Linked DNA regions of Homo sapiens: region 2 is linked to region 1. Evidence: fine-mapped expression QTL. A gene starts in region 1. The other region holds a variant in brackets. All regions are shown on one strand. Distances are between the middles of the regions. Region 1 holds the start of CCRL2 (C-C motif chemokine receptor like 2). Region 2 holds the start of CCR1 (C-C motif chemokine receptor 1).

Evidence for each region.
Region 2: its variant is fine-mapped to the expression of CCRL2 in whole blood (TOPMed, PIP above 0.99).

What each region holds. Positions count from the first base shown.
Region 1 is chr3:46,402,490-46,412,153 of GRCh38, reverse strand. It overlaps CCRL2 (C-C motif chemokine receptor like 2), which reads right to left and starts at 4,895. Exons shown (of 2, transcript NM_003965.5): 1 at 4,652-4,895; 2 at 2,631-4,086. The coding sequence starts at 4,074. The coding sequence ends at 3,040. It overlaps CCR5AS (CCR5 antisense RNA), which reads left to right and starts at 5,088. Exons shown (of 4, transcript NR_125406.2): 1 at 5,088-5,257.
Region 2 is chr3:46,203,858-46,211,857 of GRCh38, reverse strand. CCR1 (C-C motif chemokine receptor 1) reads left to right here and starts at 3,545. Exons shown (of 2, transcript NM_001295.3): 1 at 3,545-3,576; 2 at 7,534-8,000. The coding sequence starts at 7,545. It also overlaps a transcript of CCR3 not described here. The variant GAAC/C (reference allele first, on the strand shown) is at 3,403.

The DNA of each region.
Region 1 (9,664 bases):
TCCGGCTGGGCACGGTGACTCATGCCTGTAATCCCAGCACTTTAGGAGGCCGAGGCAGGTGGATCACCTGAGGTCAGGAGTGTGAGAGCAGCTGGCCAACATGGCAAAACCCCGTCTCTACTAAAATTACAAAAATTAGTCAGTTGCTCTTGTGCATGACTGTAGTCACAGCTACTTGGGAGGCTGAGGCATGAGAATTGCTTGAACTCAGGAGGCAGAGGTTGCAGTCAGCCAAGATCACACCATTGCATTCCAGGCTGGGTGACAGAGCGAGACTCTGTCTCAAAAATAAATAAATAAATAAATAATTAAAAATAAAATTAAAATCTGGCCTCCTTCATTCAGCATTTTGAGATTTCGTGCATGCTCCTGTGTGTATCAATAGCTCGTTTCTTTTTGTGGATGAGCAGTATTCCATTAGATACACAGGCCAGTATTTGTTTATCCATTCACCTGTTGATAGACAGACTTTTTCTAGTTTGAGGCTATATAAATAAGGCTGTCATGAACATTTGGGTCCAAATCTTTGTATGGACATACATGCTCATTTCTCTTGGGTAAATACTGAGGAGTGAAATGGATAGTAGGTATAGGCTTTGCTTTTGGTGACACTGCCAATTTTTCCAAAGTGATTATACCATTTTACATTCCCACCAGCAGGGTATGAAAGTTCCAGTTGCTCCACAACCTTTTAGAAGCTAGAAAAATTGCCATTTAAAATGTCACCATCAGTTTCTTTCTTTCTTTTCTTTTATGATAGTGACCGGCATTCGCCTTTGGAATGTAGGGATCCTTTGTTCTAGGAAGGACCCTTGAGTGACTTCTTGCAGTTTTATCTATTACTTGTGCCCATTCCAGCTCACCTTGAGGTCAGACCCATAGCCCTATTATGACTCTGAAAGAGCAGAGCCAGCTACAAGCCCTCAATGAGTGGCATAAGGTGCCAGAGAAGAGTCTGTCATCATGGGCTCAGCAAAACTGAAATCCCTGGCATATATCATTTTATTCCTCTTCCTAATTTCTCTCCAACTGACGCTGCTTCATATTTCCTCTCTGCCTCCCTCCACTGCGCTTCCCACCCTCACATCTCCAAACCTCTCTACTTTCCTGAATAATTCACCCCAACTCTAAATTCCACATTGTCTTCAGCACAAAGCCAAACCCTTACTTAGCTGAGTTTCTTCTCCCTGGAACAGTGGTTCTCAGAAGGAGGGCCTTGGGTCAGCAGTATCTGCATCCCCTGGGGAATTTGTTAGAAATGCATATTCTGAGGTCACACTCCAGACCTCCTGAACCACAAACTCCGGGATGGGGCCCAGAACTCTGTGTTTTAGCACAGGGCTTGTGATGTGAGCTGGCATTTGAGAGCCACTGCCATGGAGTGTGGTTTGGAGCCAGTTATTGTTGTATAAGCATGTCCCTTGGGGGTCTCATCCGCTATCCTAATAGGCTCTTTGAATGTTTCATCTAACACAAATAAGGGGTCTTTGGTTATGGGGTGGCATATGGAGAATTCTCATGTTTGGAAAATCAGATTTTCTCCACCTCATTTCATCAATATAGAGCAAATTTCCTTCCACCACTGTTGAGTAGGACATTAAGGACCCCTTTTAATTGGCCAGAGACTTGGGTTTTAATGAGTCAGACATCTCTATGTGTCCCTATGTGAGATGCTGTGCCCATGGGTATCATCGTTTTTGCCTAGGAAGGAAAGTGCCTCCTGTGAAGGAAAGACAGGGTTCCACTGCTTTCCTGTAAGGTTTAGTGCCGTGAACGTGTGCCTGATGCCAGGAGGGGAGGAGTGTGGGCTGGTGCCCTGCAGTGCGGCAGCAGTGGGCGGCCTGGGTAGGTTTTTAGCAAGCATCAGTGCCAAGCCTCCAGCTCTCTTTAGTGCAAGCAAGATGCTGGGCCAGCAGGAGGAGGCAGCCAGCCCAGGCCCTATGTCTGCAGGACTCAGCCGGGAGTGGTGATTGTCCCCTGGCAGCAAGGCCCTGGTAGCTTTGAGGCCTCAAAGGGCCAGAAGCAAGATTATAAAGAGACCAGTGAGTGTGGAGTCCAATTCTGAACACCAGGAACAGGAAAATGTTTTTAGGATCAAGGATGCATCATCCTTACGGATCTGGGGGGTCTCCGGGGAGGTAGCTCACATGTTGAGGTGACCTTCTGCTGATGTGGCAGGTGGGAGCCTGTGTTCTACTAACTCAGCCACAGAAAGGAAGTGGGACAACCTTTTGTAGTTATGTGCTGGTGAGGCCTGAGGTATGTGTTATACTTAAAAGGACAAAGCATTCATTTTGTTAGACATTTCTAAACATAATTTCTCATTTGCTTTTGTTAAGTCTCCTAAGATTCCATAGTCTTGATAAAGTACGAGAAAATACCAGAAACCTTGGGTTAGGGGAAGCTGGGGGCCTAGGGGTGTGGCAAGTAAGCAAGAGAATTTAGAGAACTTCGACAGAACAAGTTACCTTACCTCTTTTTCCCACAGCTTCCAGCTAGCTAGTTCTTCTCATCACCGGCGAGGCAATGAGCCTGAAAAGTTACTCCCATATAAATGGGCTGTCTATAATTTGGAATGTAGTTAAATTGGTTTTAAAATCAACTTACAAATTATTTTAAAATACATTAAATAGATGTTTTAAAATACATTTATTTCATGTCGTTTGTCCCCAGGGTTTGGAGTTTGATGTTCTGGACCAAGCGTAGGCTCTGAGCAAATGCTACCAGGGCTGGAGAATCAGTTCTGCCACTTCCTAGTTATGTGATCTTAGACAAATTTCCGCGCCTTAGTTTTCTTCTCAGAGAAATGAGACTAGTCCTATCCACACTATGGACAAGTGGTAGGAGGCGAAGGAGCTCACGTTTGTAAAGAGCCTTGCACGGTGCCTGAGACAAATTCAGTGCTTAGCAAATGTTAGCTCACCTCTCCCTTTTCTTCCTGTATCCGATTTTGTATACAAATGTGTAGAAAATTTACATGAAATAATGCAGAAAGATGAAAATCCATGTTTATTCTTCTTGCATTTGGTGGATGCTAGTTTACACTTCGGTGGAATGGTCAGGTTCTTCCCTCGATGTGCCTTGTGCAGACTGCCCCCTGGGTTGAAGTGGGGTGTTACTACGCAGATGGAAACAGCGGCAGAGGTATTTGCTAAATGTCCCATCAAGAAACGCATACAGGAGAGGGTTGATGCAGCAGTGGGTGGTGGCGATGAGTTTAGTGATGTGAACACTTTTGTCCAGATTGTAGCTGCTCTTGCAGTCACTCAGGGAGAAGTGTTCTTTGAAAGTGGACAGGAAAAATGCAATATTGTAGGGCGCCCACATCAGAAGGAAGACTACCATTATGGCAAAAACAAGCTTGAAAAGGCTATACCTCTGCTCCCTGAACCTTAGTGTTTTTCTCATTTGCACATAGAGAAATGTAAAAATAAATAGGGGGAGGACAAGAACCGAAATGTTCATTTTTAAAGTCAGAAAATGCTTCCAGAATGTCTCATCAGCTGGCAGGAAGGGAGTTCTGCTAAATGCACACTTGTATTTCTGGTCTTCCATCTGAGGTTTATAAACCACGAATTCAGGCAAAGTGGCCAGAATGGCTGTTACCCATGCCAGGACACTTGTAATGATGCCACAGGGCACCCTCCTCCTGGCTGAGAAAAAGTTTCCCTTGTGCAAAAACACTAGGTACCTTTGCACAGTCAGAAGGCAATTGAAAAATGTCTCACTGTACAGGCCCACGAAGTACAGTCCAATGAGAATTTTACACATGGGATCGCCCCCAGCATGAGCCCAGAAGGGCAGGGTAAGCAAGAAACACAAGTTAGAAACTGCCAAGTTTAGAAGATAGATATTTTCCACGCGTTTGAGTCCTTTATATTTTACCAGGATAAGCACAACCAGGAGATTGTCCAGGACACCGATCACAAACACAGCAGAGCAGAGTGATGGCACCAGCTGGGCTGAGAGTGCCTGGGCGTCATACTTGTCACATTGCTCTGCCTCATCGCTCTCCAGTTCACCTTCTATGAGGACATCATATTCATCCTCTGGTGCCAGCGTGTAATTGGCCATCTTCAGACTGCCCTGTGGAGAAATGGGAGATGATTTTCCCCTCCGACAGCTGCCTTATCCTGGAGGAAACAACAAACTGGACCTGGATTCATACAGCCCCACTTTCCCTTTCTGGAGCTACATTTTAGCCAGAGTAATTCCCTATTTCAGAAGACTGAAATAAACATTTCTTTAACGTGTGCCCACTTCCCCAGAGCAGCACCATTCCCAATCTAGTTGTTAAGCATGTAAGTGCTTAGCAGTGTGCCAGGTGCCACGGGAAATAAAGCTGGCATGACACCGCCTTGGTAGAACTTACCTTCTTTTAGCAGAAACAGGACTTGCCTACATGAACACAATATGTAAGAAAATATATAATTAAAGAGAACCAAGTACGATGGCTTACTTTTAAGAAACGGGTGTAGATCATAATTTCTGCATTTTAAAAAGTTTGCTCACCCCCCGAAGCAGCTTCCTGTGACAGCTGAGACGTTTTTCTCTCGAAGGGTATAAATAAATGTTTGCAAAAGTGAAACCATGCTCAGCATCAACATGGCCATAAGGGGTTAAATACATAGATGACACACAGATGACTTACCACTGGGCTGAGCTCCTGCAGGGGAAGGGCGCAGCCTCCAGACCCAGCATCCGGGAGCTGTGGGAATGGCCCCGGACAGTGGATGCCCTCCTTTTGATCAGACTGCTCCTGACCCTGAGGGGCACGAGAAACCACTGTTGATTCCCCTGGTGGCTCTACCCGCCCCACTCACCGAGCTCAGGGACCAACTGAAATAAAGTACTCAAAAGCTCCCCCAGGCCTCCAGAGGATCTCTGAAGCGTCTGAAAGCAACCGGGAAGTTGTTTCCTCCTCCCTCTGGCCCTGTACCCCGCCTTTGATTTCCCTGTGACCTTTGACAGCCGTCTTCTGGCCTTCTGAGATAAGGGAACTGTGTCACTGCCGCTCTGAGTGGTAGCAAGGAAGTGATGTCAAGGTGCTGAGAACTGCCAAGACGCTCTGGCTTGTGGCATGTGACACTCTGAGTAGGTAACAGGTACCAGCTACTGTCAGCAGGGAGGAAGGTATGTGGTGACCACGAGTCCAGACCTGAGGGTCCTGACCCTCTAATGCGGCCTCTCACCAGTGTTCGCAGAAACCCACCCGCTGATTCAATACGGGGACCAGGAACCTGCCATGACAGTCACGGTGTGTTTGGGTTTTTATTGTCATTTTTGAGGGGCACTGTGTGCTTTGGTTAAGACTGAGGCCTCAAAAGAGAATTTTAGGAAAATGGAAGCCACAGGGTGATGTCAGCTGGGAAAAGGCCAGGGGCAGAGGTGGGGTCTCAGCGGCAGTGAGCATAGGGCTGCCCTGGGTGTCAACACTGAGGAAAGCAAAGGGGTTTGCAAGCAGCCAGAAGTGATTGGTGCTGTGACTCATGGGGGAGCTGACCCCACTCGGAAAAGGAGAACCCAGAGGAGGAAAATCCCGTGGTGATGACACAGAGGCGACATCAAGTTGGGTGGGAGAGAATGTGAGGAGGACAAGTTTAACCCCAAACTGAGGCTGGGGGCTAGGGTAGGTTTGAGTCCAGAGAGAAGGAAATTGAGAGAACAGCCCAGATTTGGAATGGTGGGAGGAGGCTGTGGGGAGGGGAGGCTGTGGGAAGAGAGTGGGACGGGGAGGGCACGGTCTGGAAGAAGGACGAACCGAGAAGAGGAACTTGAAAATAATGAAAAAATCTAGATGAGCTTCTCTTGGGTCAACGACTCAGCAGCTGTGACTAACCTAATTTGGGGATCAGACCTATTTGCTTAGAATTTATATATTGATTAAATGACATCCTTTTCCCACCAAAGATGTGTCTGAGGTAGGATTGAATACAAAATTTGTACCTGTCAAAATAGAAATAGAAAATTAAGAAACTAGCCTGGCACTGAGGCGCATTCCTACAGCCCCAGCTACTCAGAAGTATGAGGTGGGAGGGTCGCTTGAGCCCAGGAGTTTGAGGCCAGCCTGGGCAACATAGTGAGATCCCGGATCTATAAACAATATAAAAATTAGCCAGATGCAGTGGCAAGTGCCTGTAATCCCAGACATTCCAGAGGCCAAGGTGGGATGTTCACGTGAGCCCAGGAGTTGGAGGCTGCGGTGAGCCATGATCATGCCACTCTGCACTCTGGCCTGGGTGGCAGAGCGAGACACTGTCTCTGGAAAAAAAAAAGAAGAAGGAGGAGGAGGGGCGGGGAGAGGAAGGGAGGAGAGAGAACTATTAAGAGAAAAATAAACACAGAAAGAGCCCAGACAAATATGTGATTGAGCATTAAATTTAACTCCACGTGTGCCGACAGACAAGGCAGAAAGAGAAACACAATGATGTTTGATGGCAGAGGAGTTGGTGCTGGTGGGAACCTAAGCTGTAAGTGCCCTCTCCTCTCTTGTGTGGGTCTCCTGTGAGTGAGTGAGTGGGGGTCATGGTGCCCTGGGACACTCTTCCCACCCCCTACAGCCTGGGATCAGCAGTGGCCCCTCCTCCTGGGTCTCTCCACCTCCTGCAGCTGGGCAGGACACTCAGGATCTTGAATGAGTAGGTGCGGGCAGCTTTACTCTCGATACTCATGGATCAGTTCCAGGAAAAGGAAGGAAAGTCAAGTCAGACTTTGAAACTTGCAAAACGCTGGGAGTACGCACACTCTTCCTCATTAGTAGAGGACAAAAACAGCAGTCAGGCACCTCATGTACCGCATGTCACAGAGTCATGTGAGATGTGAAATTTCCCAAGTAAAAACACAGAATCATGTGAGGTGTGAAATTTCCCAAAGAAAAATGTTTTGTAAATTCAGGATCACCCTGGCTTACTAATATTAGCATGACCTTCACTTTCAGTATTATTTTATTTTTGCCTGATTCCCAGCATTCTGCCTATCCACACTCAGGCCATGAGGTCCTTGAAACTTCTACATAGGAAGGAAGGAAGAGTTTAGAAGGCTGCAGTTGAGGCGAAAGGAAAGTTCTCTTTATTATTCTCATATCTGAAGCCATAATAGGGCCTCCTTGTTTGTGAAACGACATCACATTCTGCAGCCTTGGCAAGTGGTCCACAAAGCTTACCTCTGAAGGTCTGAGTTCCTCTTTATCACTATAATTTGACCCCAGTTTTAGTCGAAGGAACTATCACTGTATACTCTCATTCCCCACTACGTGTAGATCACTCATTTACTTAATTCAATTATTCAGCAAGTATTTCTAGAGTGCCTAGCCTGTGCCTAGCTCTGTTCCAGGTGCTGGGGATGCACCAATGGACAAAATAGGCAAAAATCCTGACCTTCACAGAGCTCAAGTAAATTGTAGATTAGTAGGAGAGAAGTGCTATGGAGAAGGCGAAGCAGGGAAGGACAGCAAGAGAGGCCAAGGTGGCTCAGGGATCACATTTTAAATAGTGTAGTCAGAAAAAGCCTTGCTGAGAGCTGGCTGTGGTGGCTCATGCCTGTAATCCCAGCACTTTGGGAGGCTGAGGTGGGTGGATCACTTGAGGTCAGGAGTTTGAGAACAGCCTGGCCGACATGGCAAAACTTCATCTCTACTAAAAATACAAAAATTAGCCAGGAGGGGTGGCGATGGGTGCCCGTAATCCCAGCTACTCGGGAGGCTGAAGCAGGAGAATCACTCGAACCCAGGAGGTGGAGGTTGCCGTGAGCCAAGATTGTGCCACTGCACTCCGGCCTGGGTGACAGAGTGAGACTCCATCTTAAAAAAAAAAAAAAAAAAAAAAAAAGAGAGAGAGAGAGAGAGAGAGAGAGAGAGAAAGCCTTGCTGAGAAGATGGGCACTAAAGCCACAAATGGTTGGGTCCAATAGTTCATGATCATTGTCTCATTCTTTCTTGTCACTAAGTTCTTATATCAGGGAGGTTGAAAACACACACTGGGTGATAACCTTAGCAATAATTTTACCGAAGACGCAGACATATTCTTCTTAATATATTGACCCTCAATAAAAAAGGCAAAGGATGTGAGGCTCCAGTTACTGATTTATCGCCTTTCAGCTCTTCATTCACTCTTCTGTGTTCTGCTTTGTGAGTCTAGAGCTGGACCCCATAAACATTTCTCCTTTGCCAGTTGCTGTAGAAGGCATAAGAGGGTCGCAGTAAGAGGCAGAGTTTTTTCTTTCTGGTTCTGGGATTTGTTTTTATTTTGTTTTTGTTCTTTTGGCTGATTTGCCAGTGCTGGGTGGAGACCCTGCAGTGCCCACTCCTCAGTGAATTTTGCCGACACCACGACAGTGGCTTCCTGCTGACTTTTGCTGGCACCCTACTGGGTAGCTTCCTAGTAAATTTTGCTGGCACTCCAAGAGCGTCTTCCTCGCCAGAGGCATGCCCACATTCTTGGGAATCTCACTGGTACCCCTTCGGGCAGTTTCCTGCTCAGCAGCCCCAACCTGCCACAACTCTGCAAACTTCTTGGGCATCCATTGGGTTGCAGCCACACCCCCTCCAACAAGGGTGGATCAGCTGGGGAGGGAGGGCATTTTTTGAGTTCGCCCCTTCCTTGGCTGCTGTGCCTTAGCTTAGAGGTTATGGCTGCTCTCTACATCTGCCATTCCTGCATTCTTCAGCATTCTCCTTACCCCCTTTAGTAGTTCATACCCTTTTATAAGTTAATAACTCATTATATTTAATGTTCATGTGTGGTTTCTGTCTTGACTGTATGCTGATTGATACACACAACATTAAATTTAGTTCAGGGAAGGGATGGGGAAATGCTAGGATGATGCCTTTTTTAGAGATCTAACTTGATCTTGAGAAATAGGTATTAGATCAAAGAGCTAAAAACAGAAATCCCATTACTGGGTATACACCCAGAGGAATATAAATCATTCTACCATGAAGACACACGCATGTGAATGTTCATTGCAGCACTATTCACAGTAGCAAAGACATGGAATAAACCTAAATGCCCATCAATGACAGATTAGATAAAGAAAGTGTGGTACATATACACCATGGAATACTATGCAGCCATGAAAAGAACGAGATCATGTTTTTTTGTGGAAACACGAATGGAGCTGGAGGCTATTACCCTTAGCAAACTAACACAGGAACAGAAAACCAAATACCTTGTATTCTCACTTATAAGTGGGAGCTAAATGATGAGAACACATGAACTCAAAGAAGGGAACAACAGACACCGGGGTCTACTTGAGACTGGAGGGCGGGAGGAGGGAGAGGAGCAGAAAAGATACCTATTGAGTACTGGGCTTGATAGCTGAGTGATGAAATAATTTGTACAACAAACCCTCATGACAAAAGGTTACCTACGTAACAAGCTTTCACATGTACCCCAGAACCTAAAATAAAAGTTCAAAAAATTATTGTTTAAATGCATAATAACAAATTTGGAAAATTTCAAAAAAAGAGAAATAGGTATTAGAATGTTTAGACTGATGATAATTTAATCTGTCCCTTACTATGGCTTCTTCAAATATAATCTTTCTTAGATTATCAATTAGTCAATCCATCTATCTAATTTTTATTAGCAAATAAAATGTTACAGAAAATTTGTATAGAGAAAAACTATGATAGTGATAATCTCACATAATAGCCATTATAAGTTTT
Region 2 (8,000 bases), 200 kb after region 1:
CATGCTTATTCCCAGGTGCTTGCTGGTGGAGAAGAATCTTCTGGGTATGAGGTTCAGTGACAAAAGCAATGGAAGACAACGTGTATTGTATTCACTCACCAGTGTAAAAAAAAGTGTGTGTGTGCGTGTGTTCTATGTTCAAAGTGACATGAGAATCTGATACTGTTGTTCCTTTTGGGAAGAGAAATGGGGAAAATAAGGCGCCAGGGGTAGGCAAACTTAGCTCTTCACCTTATATTTTGTGTACTTACAAATATAAACAAATTACATCTCAGAGAATTCCTGTAGACCAGTGGTTCTCGAAACTTATTAGAAATGCAAATCTAGGTCAGGCATGGTGGGATCACAGGTCACACCTGTAATCCCAGCACTTTGGGAGGCTGGGGCAAGAGGGTCACTAGAGCCCATGAGTTTGAGACCAACCTAGGCAACATGATAACACACCCATTTCTACAAAAAATATATATATATATATATACATATTTTTTCAAATTAGCCAGGTGTGGTGCCATGCACCTGTGGTTCCAGCTACTTAGGAGACTGAAGTGGGAGGATCACTTGAGCCCAGAAGGTTGAGGCTGCAGTGAGCCATGATCATGCTACTGCACCCCAGCCTGGGCGACAGAGCAAGACCTTGTCTAAAAAAAAAAAAAAAAAAAAGTAAATTCTCAGGCCCCATTCCAGACCTACTGAACTTAATCTCTGGAGATAAGTCCAGAAATCTGTTTTAACAAGCCCTCTGTAGATTCTGATGGATATTCAAATTCGAGAACCATTGCTTTAGGCCAGGGATTCTAGTTCTCAGATTTTTTAACATATTAAAATTCCAATGCCCAGGCTGCACCCTAGACCAAGTACATCAGAATATCTGGGGGTGGGCCTAGGAGTCAATTGTCCTTCAAGCTTCCATGTGACTCTAACATAGCGGAGGCAACACTGGTTTCACCTACCTTCTTCCAATTCTGGGATCCACCTCTTCCCAGCCTCAAATCTTGCTCAGGCTTTAGATGTGATAACCTGGAGATTGTTTTCTTGGAGTTCTTCCACAATGGCCTCTGGCTCCTCAGTTCCCCACCATCGCTGATTTGGAGAGAGTGTGTGGCCAGAAGACAAGGCCCAGCAGTTGAATATGAGGTTGAACCTGATGACGGCCAGGGTCCATGAGCTCTGCAGGTGTTAAAGACAGAGTCATCCACATCCACCACTGGCAGGGTCCCCTGCATCTCTTCCCTGAACATTGGTGCCAAGGCTGGGGTGGAAGGCTGTCTCAGGACAGGGTTTGGCTTAGTGCTGGGCTTCCACTGCAACCTCTCTGGGGCAAAGGAAGCTGCCCACATCTCCCCCTTCTCTCCAAGGAAGAGGAACATTGATGTGGATCAAGGACAATACGGCAACCTTGAGAGAACACTACAGCTTTTAAGGAGAGGAGTCAAAGGGCTTTTAAGAGAAATGAATGGAGCAAGGTCATCCCTCTTTGCTGGTTTCTCTCTTGTCTCTCTGTGCTGCCCCCATTGTACACATCTGCTGTGGTGAGAGGGGTGTGTGCACTAAGGGGTTTGCAAGGCCATAGGAGACCTGAGTGTGGGTGTGGGAGGGGAGACAGAGCAGGCAACTGAGCAGCCTCTTGTTTAGGCCTTGAGCTAAAGAGAGAAAGAAGGCTTCCTAGCTCATAGCTGGTCCAGCCTAACTCTTCTGAAGAAAGATCACATGGGACTCTGAGCCAAAAGCATTGAGAAAATCTAGATCCATGCCCCCCAAATTTAAGCATGCATCAGAATCATGCCAGTCTTTGTCAAAACCTGGATTGCTTGGCCGCATCCCCAGGATTTCTGAGTCAGTATATCTGGCATGTAACCCCAGAACTTGCATGGCTAGCAATGTCCCAGGGAATGTGAATGCTGCTGGTCCAGGGACCTCACTTTGAGAACCACTGCTCTAAAGGACTTCCTCACCCCTTCCCACCCTCGATGCACCCTTCCTTAGCCCAGGGTATTTCCCAGGCCACTACAAAAGCTGTTCCTCATTGTGGTAACTTGGTTAATTGTTTGTGATCCTTCCTAAGCTATAAGCTCTCAAAGAATGGATCCAGCCTCTTTCTTCACCACTATATCCCAAGCACCTAACACAATGTCCGGCACATTGTGAGTACTGAATAAATATTTGTTCAATGAACAAGCAGATTTGCCTGGTACATCCCCTCTGTGGAATGAAACCTAGAGCAGAGCTGGAAGCCTGGTCAAGGATGAGGTACTGACCATGTCCCTTACTTTAGACAGGATCAAGGAAAAGGCAGGCCTCACAAGCCTCTGTTCTCTTTGGAAACTGATCCACCAGCAAAGTACTGCAAATAGCCAGGCACATGCAGACCCCCATTTATTTCTTTGGGGTGAAGCTGAGTGATGATCAGATGTCAAGCTTAGGCCATCTTGTCTGAATTCTTCATTTTACAGATAAGAAAACTGAACCATGAAGAGACAAGTGATCTTTTCAAAGCACATTCACACTGATGATTTCTGAAACAGTGCTTTGTAGCAATGCCGTGAGGAAGGTTAGGGGTGTCCCCACTTTATAGAAGACACAAGGGCAGAGGCAGAGTAGGTGTTGGCAGTTGTGAGGAGAGTCACAGTACTCATCATTTGTCAGACATTTTTCACTGTGCCAGGCACTCTGACATTTTTCATGTACAAGTTGACTTCGTGCTTCTCCTCTGAGGTAAGCATTCAATACTCCCATTTAGCAGAGTAGGAACCAAGACTTAGAAAGGTGAGTGATCTGCCCATGTCACAGGTGGAGAGCTGGGATTTGAACTTGGCCCATGTTTGACCATCACGTAAAACAGGAATGGGGCATCAGAAAGGGAAGGTCAAAATGTAACCAACAGACCTATATTCCCTTCATGCTGGAGGTTCCTGGGGCAAAGCCACTCTCTGAGGTTTGGTGGGGAGGGACTTGGGGAGCAGAGAGCAGAGGGACAATGAGCTCCCAGAAGCCGAGGGGCATAGGGTGCCAAAGAGAAGCTGCTGCCTCTGTGAGCACCCATGTCAGTTAGTTTTGAGGAACAGGACTCAGGGTTCCAGTTTAAATCCTTCCATTCACAATCTTTAAGAAGAAGAAAAAAAAGAAGTCTGCCGCTGACCACAAGAGCTCTATGCCCTGCCCCCATCCCACATACACACATCCCACACTTCAATTGCTCCAAACATTCTGGGAACATCTCACTGCCACCCACCTCACCCAACTCAGCTTCACCTGCCCCCAATTCCCTTAAGGCTGAGCTCCCAGGGCCAAGACTCAAGAGGCTCAGAGTGAGCAGAGAAAATCCTCGCAGTTAACTTGGCTTCCAGGAAGTGGCCACTGGTGGGCGTTGTGGCCATTCATGAGCACCAAACCACACAAAAAGAA[GAAC/C]TTTGTCCCTTTCTTGTCATTTTGAAAGACTGTGAAACTGGAGCCAATTCTCCATCATCACACAGGAAGCTGAGTACTTCCTACTTGGTCAGGATCTTGAAACTTGAATTCATAAAAACCCAGAAAGCCCCAGAAACAAAGACTTCACGGACAAAGTCCCTTGGAACCAGAGTAAGTGTCACTTGTCTTTTCTGTCTTATCTGTTACTGTGGAGGGCAGTGTTGTTCAAAGACATGCATGCAGCTAGGGGCTCCTCAAAGGTAGGGGGAATTCTTTGAGTAGGCTGGGCAAATGTCTAAGTAGCCCATGGATGCATCTCCAAGGCAATTAATACTGTAGCAATACTGAGAATGGTGGATTTATAAAGCTGGGTGCTCAGATGAAATATAGGCTTTTTTGCTAAAAAGGAAGCTTACTTGAAGGATTGGCTTTTGGTTACTGATTAAGAAAGTCAGTCAGTACTAAGGGACAAAAGGTGTTTTCTGTGGAAACCTATTCAATAAGAAATTACTTGGCGGGGCGCAGTGGCTCACGGCTGTAATCCCAGCACTTTGGGAGACCGAGGCAGGTGGATCATGAGGTCAAGAGATGGAGACAATCCTGGCCATATGGTGAAACCCTGTCTCTACTAAAAATAAAAATTAGCCGGGCATGGTGGCGCATGCCTGTAGTCCCAGCTACTCAAGAGGCTGAGGCAGGAGAATCACTCGAATCCGGGAGGTGGAGGTTGCAGTGAGCTGAGATTGCACCACTACACTCCAGCCTGGCGACAGAGCAAGAGTCTGTCTGAAAAAAAAAAAAAAATTGCTTGCCAAATTCCCCCATGTAAAGGAAAACCAAACATGGTGTATGAAGAAATTATAGCAAGAGGGAAATATTAGCTAGAAAAATCTTGGCAGATGCAAGGATGATTTGATACTGAACCTATCTCTTAAGAAGACTAGAACCAAGGATCCTCAAAATTGGCACTGCTATCTTTGGAAGAGGTAGGCTTTCACTCACCCAAAGGCAAGGAGCTGGCCAGGTGATCTTGGGGGGCATCTGTTCTGCTCTACTAACAAAGACACAGGTCAGGATTTTGTTCTGAAGATAGAGGGGCATGGTGGCTCCGTATAGGTATCTACTTCATAGGTGGTCTTGGTGGGTCCCAGATTTCAAAGAAGAGATGGAAACTCCCAAAAGTTTGCACAACCTGGCACCAGGCTATGTGCCACTCACTGATCCTTTAGTTCCCGCACCGAGCAGTGGGACAGTGCTGGACTGTTCAGAATGTGGGGCCTGGGCAGTGATGTGCTGGTAAATGTTCAACAACTGACTCTTCTGAAGAAAAGATCCCTGCTTTATAACATTTGTTGATTTTCATGGTATAAATGCCCCCACTGTGGTCAGTTTCAAGCTACCAACATGCTGAATGTGGAGTGGGGAAGAGATGCACGCAATTGGCATTTATAAACCAGTATAAGCCAGCCAGCGCACCATAGGCCTGGGTGTCTTTCACCATCACAGACTGCTCTATCTCTGCTCAGAGACTTCACCAACTCCCAGGCTGGAGGACACTAGCAGTGGAGGGTCCAGGATCCAGGGCTATAGCTGACCACTGTGCAGTGGCCTTGAGGCAGACTTCTGCAGTAGACTACAGCAGGGCTGGCAGATTAGATGACAACATGGTCCTTTGGTTTCTCTTCTCGGGCCCCACCCCAGATCACCTCCCTTTAGGAACAGCATGCCTTGGAGTGGTTGCCTGGGGCTTAACAAGTTGGGGAAATAACAAATGGGTTGGAGGTAGGGGGTGTATGGAGGTGACTCGGTTTAAAATGCCACCTGACAATGTTGACTCAACTTGCCTTTGCCTTTGCCAAACCTTCCCAGAAACTGGACTCATGGGATCAGGCTTGCACTAGCTGCTCTTTGTGCTTTCCAAGCTATTTGCATACTTCCACTGTTAACCTGCCAGCCCACCGAAAAGTGCTGACTATCAAACCGAACTGTCTGCCCTCATCAGCAATGGCTGTGGCTGCAGAAATTAGAAACTGCCAACACAGCTTTGTTAGTGACCGTTAGCCTGACTCTCTCCAGAAAGAGGGCTGATTGGATCTCTCTGGAGATGGAGGAGTGGGCCAGGGGATGGGTTTGATAAAAAATTAAAGCTCCTCACTTCTCACCCTAATAGAGTATCTCCCTTTCCAGCCAGGGTGCCCTATACCCTCCATGTGCCTTAATTTCCTTTACAATGGCTATTGAAAAAAATGTGAATTGTGTAAGCAGGAAACATTCCTTAAGGAGAGTAGAAGGAAGAACACCAGAGACCCAGGTTTAAGATAGAAATTATAAAGTAGGTGCCACCTACTTTACTGATTGGCATTTGGGTCAAATCAATTTAGATTGGCGGCAATAGATTGACAATTTCAAATGTCATTCACATGGAAGGGACCATCATTGTCCACCGTTATCAAGAAAAATCACTTTCTAGATTAACTACAAAGAAATTTGGCAGGGGGGTGGGAGACAGGGTATACCAGCCAGCCAGGGACATCCTGGACATTGGTGCCTGGGATGTGCTGGTGGTGTCAGGCCTCAGGGAAGGGCTCCTGCAGTGAAGGAGTTCTCTCAGGGAAGGTCCCCAAGAAAAGTGCCCTGGCCTGGCTCTTGCCAGGCCCTCAATAAGGGGCCTGGCTGTTGCCAGGTGGTGGTGGTGGGAGGGTGATGGTAGCACTTTTCTCATACATTACCTCACAGTAGCCTTGCAAGATAAGAGTTGCTTTCCCACATTACAGATGAGGAATGAAGCTCAGAGAGGTAAAATAATTTATCCAAAGTCACAAAGCTCGTAGGTTACACCAAAGCCAATGCTCCATTTGGGGAGGCATCTTTAATAAGCAACTGGAAAGGATTCAAGTGCCAAAAAAGCAGGGACTGGGAGAAGTCCTACAAAGGCAACCTACAGAGTGATTCTTTTTTGTTTCATTTTTGTTTGCTTTAAGGCATCCGTGGGTAAAAATATCTAAGAGCTTATCTCAGCAGAATTCAGCTAGTCACTGTGTAACATCACCTCATAGCTCCAGACCATTCTGAACTCTTCCTCCCCTGATGCCCAGTTTTCTCTTTTTCTGACCAGGTTACCTCCCCCTTCTCTGCCTGCACTTTCCTCTCCTTCAGGAGGTCTGCAAAGTGACCTTAGATCTACCTGTGCCACCTAAGGACTGTGCAATGTGGGTCAGGCTCAGCCCACTCTGGTGCCCTCAGTGTCCTCATCTCCAAAATAATGGGGTTGACCTACTAGGATTTCACTATGGCAACACCACTGGTGTTTGGGGTAGAATGATCTCTGCACTGTAGGACATCCTTGGCCCTGCCTACCAAATGACGGTAGCATCCCCCAGTTTTGGTGACAACAACAACAAATGCCCACACATTTCCAAGTGCCCCAAGGGTACTAGGTCACTCTCGGCTGAGAATCTTCTTAGACCAAAAGCCATGAATATCTGTTTGTATCTTTCTCTGAGCCAGGACCATTTTCCTTCTCAGAGTCCTCCTGTGGGCTCCACAGTGCAAAGCTACTGCTCGGGGACAGCAGCAGGAAAGCGTAGTGGTGTCAGGGCCGGGCATGAGAATGATGCACAGCTGGGTTGGAGCTCCAGGTCTGTTCTCACAAGAGGTGTGTCCTTGAACATGTTTCCTAACCACTCTGAACCTCTGTTTCATCACCTCTTAAATAAGAACAACAATGGGACCCCTCCAGGGCTCTTTAACCCTAAGTCCAGTGCCTAGGCCATGGGGGTGCTTAGGAAGTGTTGGTTATGAATAGTATGGTAAGGTCTCCCTCTGGCTTTCCACCCATTGAACTTATCCCTTACAAAACTCTTTGCTGAAATGATTGAATTAATGATTTGTGCACTCATTTACTTATTGCTTCCACTCCCTGTTAGACTAAGATTCCTAGAAGGCAGAGAGGATCTGGGTCTCTCTAACACTCCATTTTGTCCCCAGGGCATGGTACACAGAAGGCACTCAATAAACATTTATGGAGTGGCTGAAAAAATGTTACCTCTCCCTTGTCTTTACTGTCCAGTGCCCACTGCCTTTAGTAGCAGAGTAAAGACAAATCTTTTTTTTTTTTTTAACCTGTAGGAGAAGCCGGGATGGAAACTCCAAACACCACAGAGGACTATGACACGACCACAGAGTTTGACTATGGGGATGCAACTCCGTGCCAGAAGGTGAACGAGAGGGCCTTTGGGGCCCAACTGCTGCCCCCTCTGTACTCCTTGGTATTTGTCATTGGCCTGGTTGGAAACATCCTGGTGGTCCTGGTCCTTGTGCAATACAAGAGGCTAAAAAACATGACCAGCATCTACCTCCTGAACCTGGCCATTTCTGACCTGCTCTTCCTGTTCACGCTTCCCTTCTGGATCGACTACAAGTTGAAGGATGACTGGGTTTTTGGTGATGCCATGTGTAAGATCCTCTCTGGGTTTTATTACACAGGCTTGTACAGCGAGATCTTTTTCATCATCCTGCTGACGATTGACAGGTACCTGGCCATCGTCCACGCCGTGTTTGCCTTGCGGGCACGGACCGTCACTTTTGGTGTCATC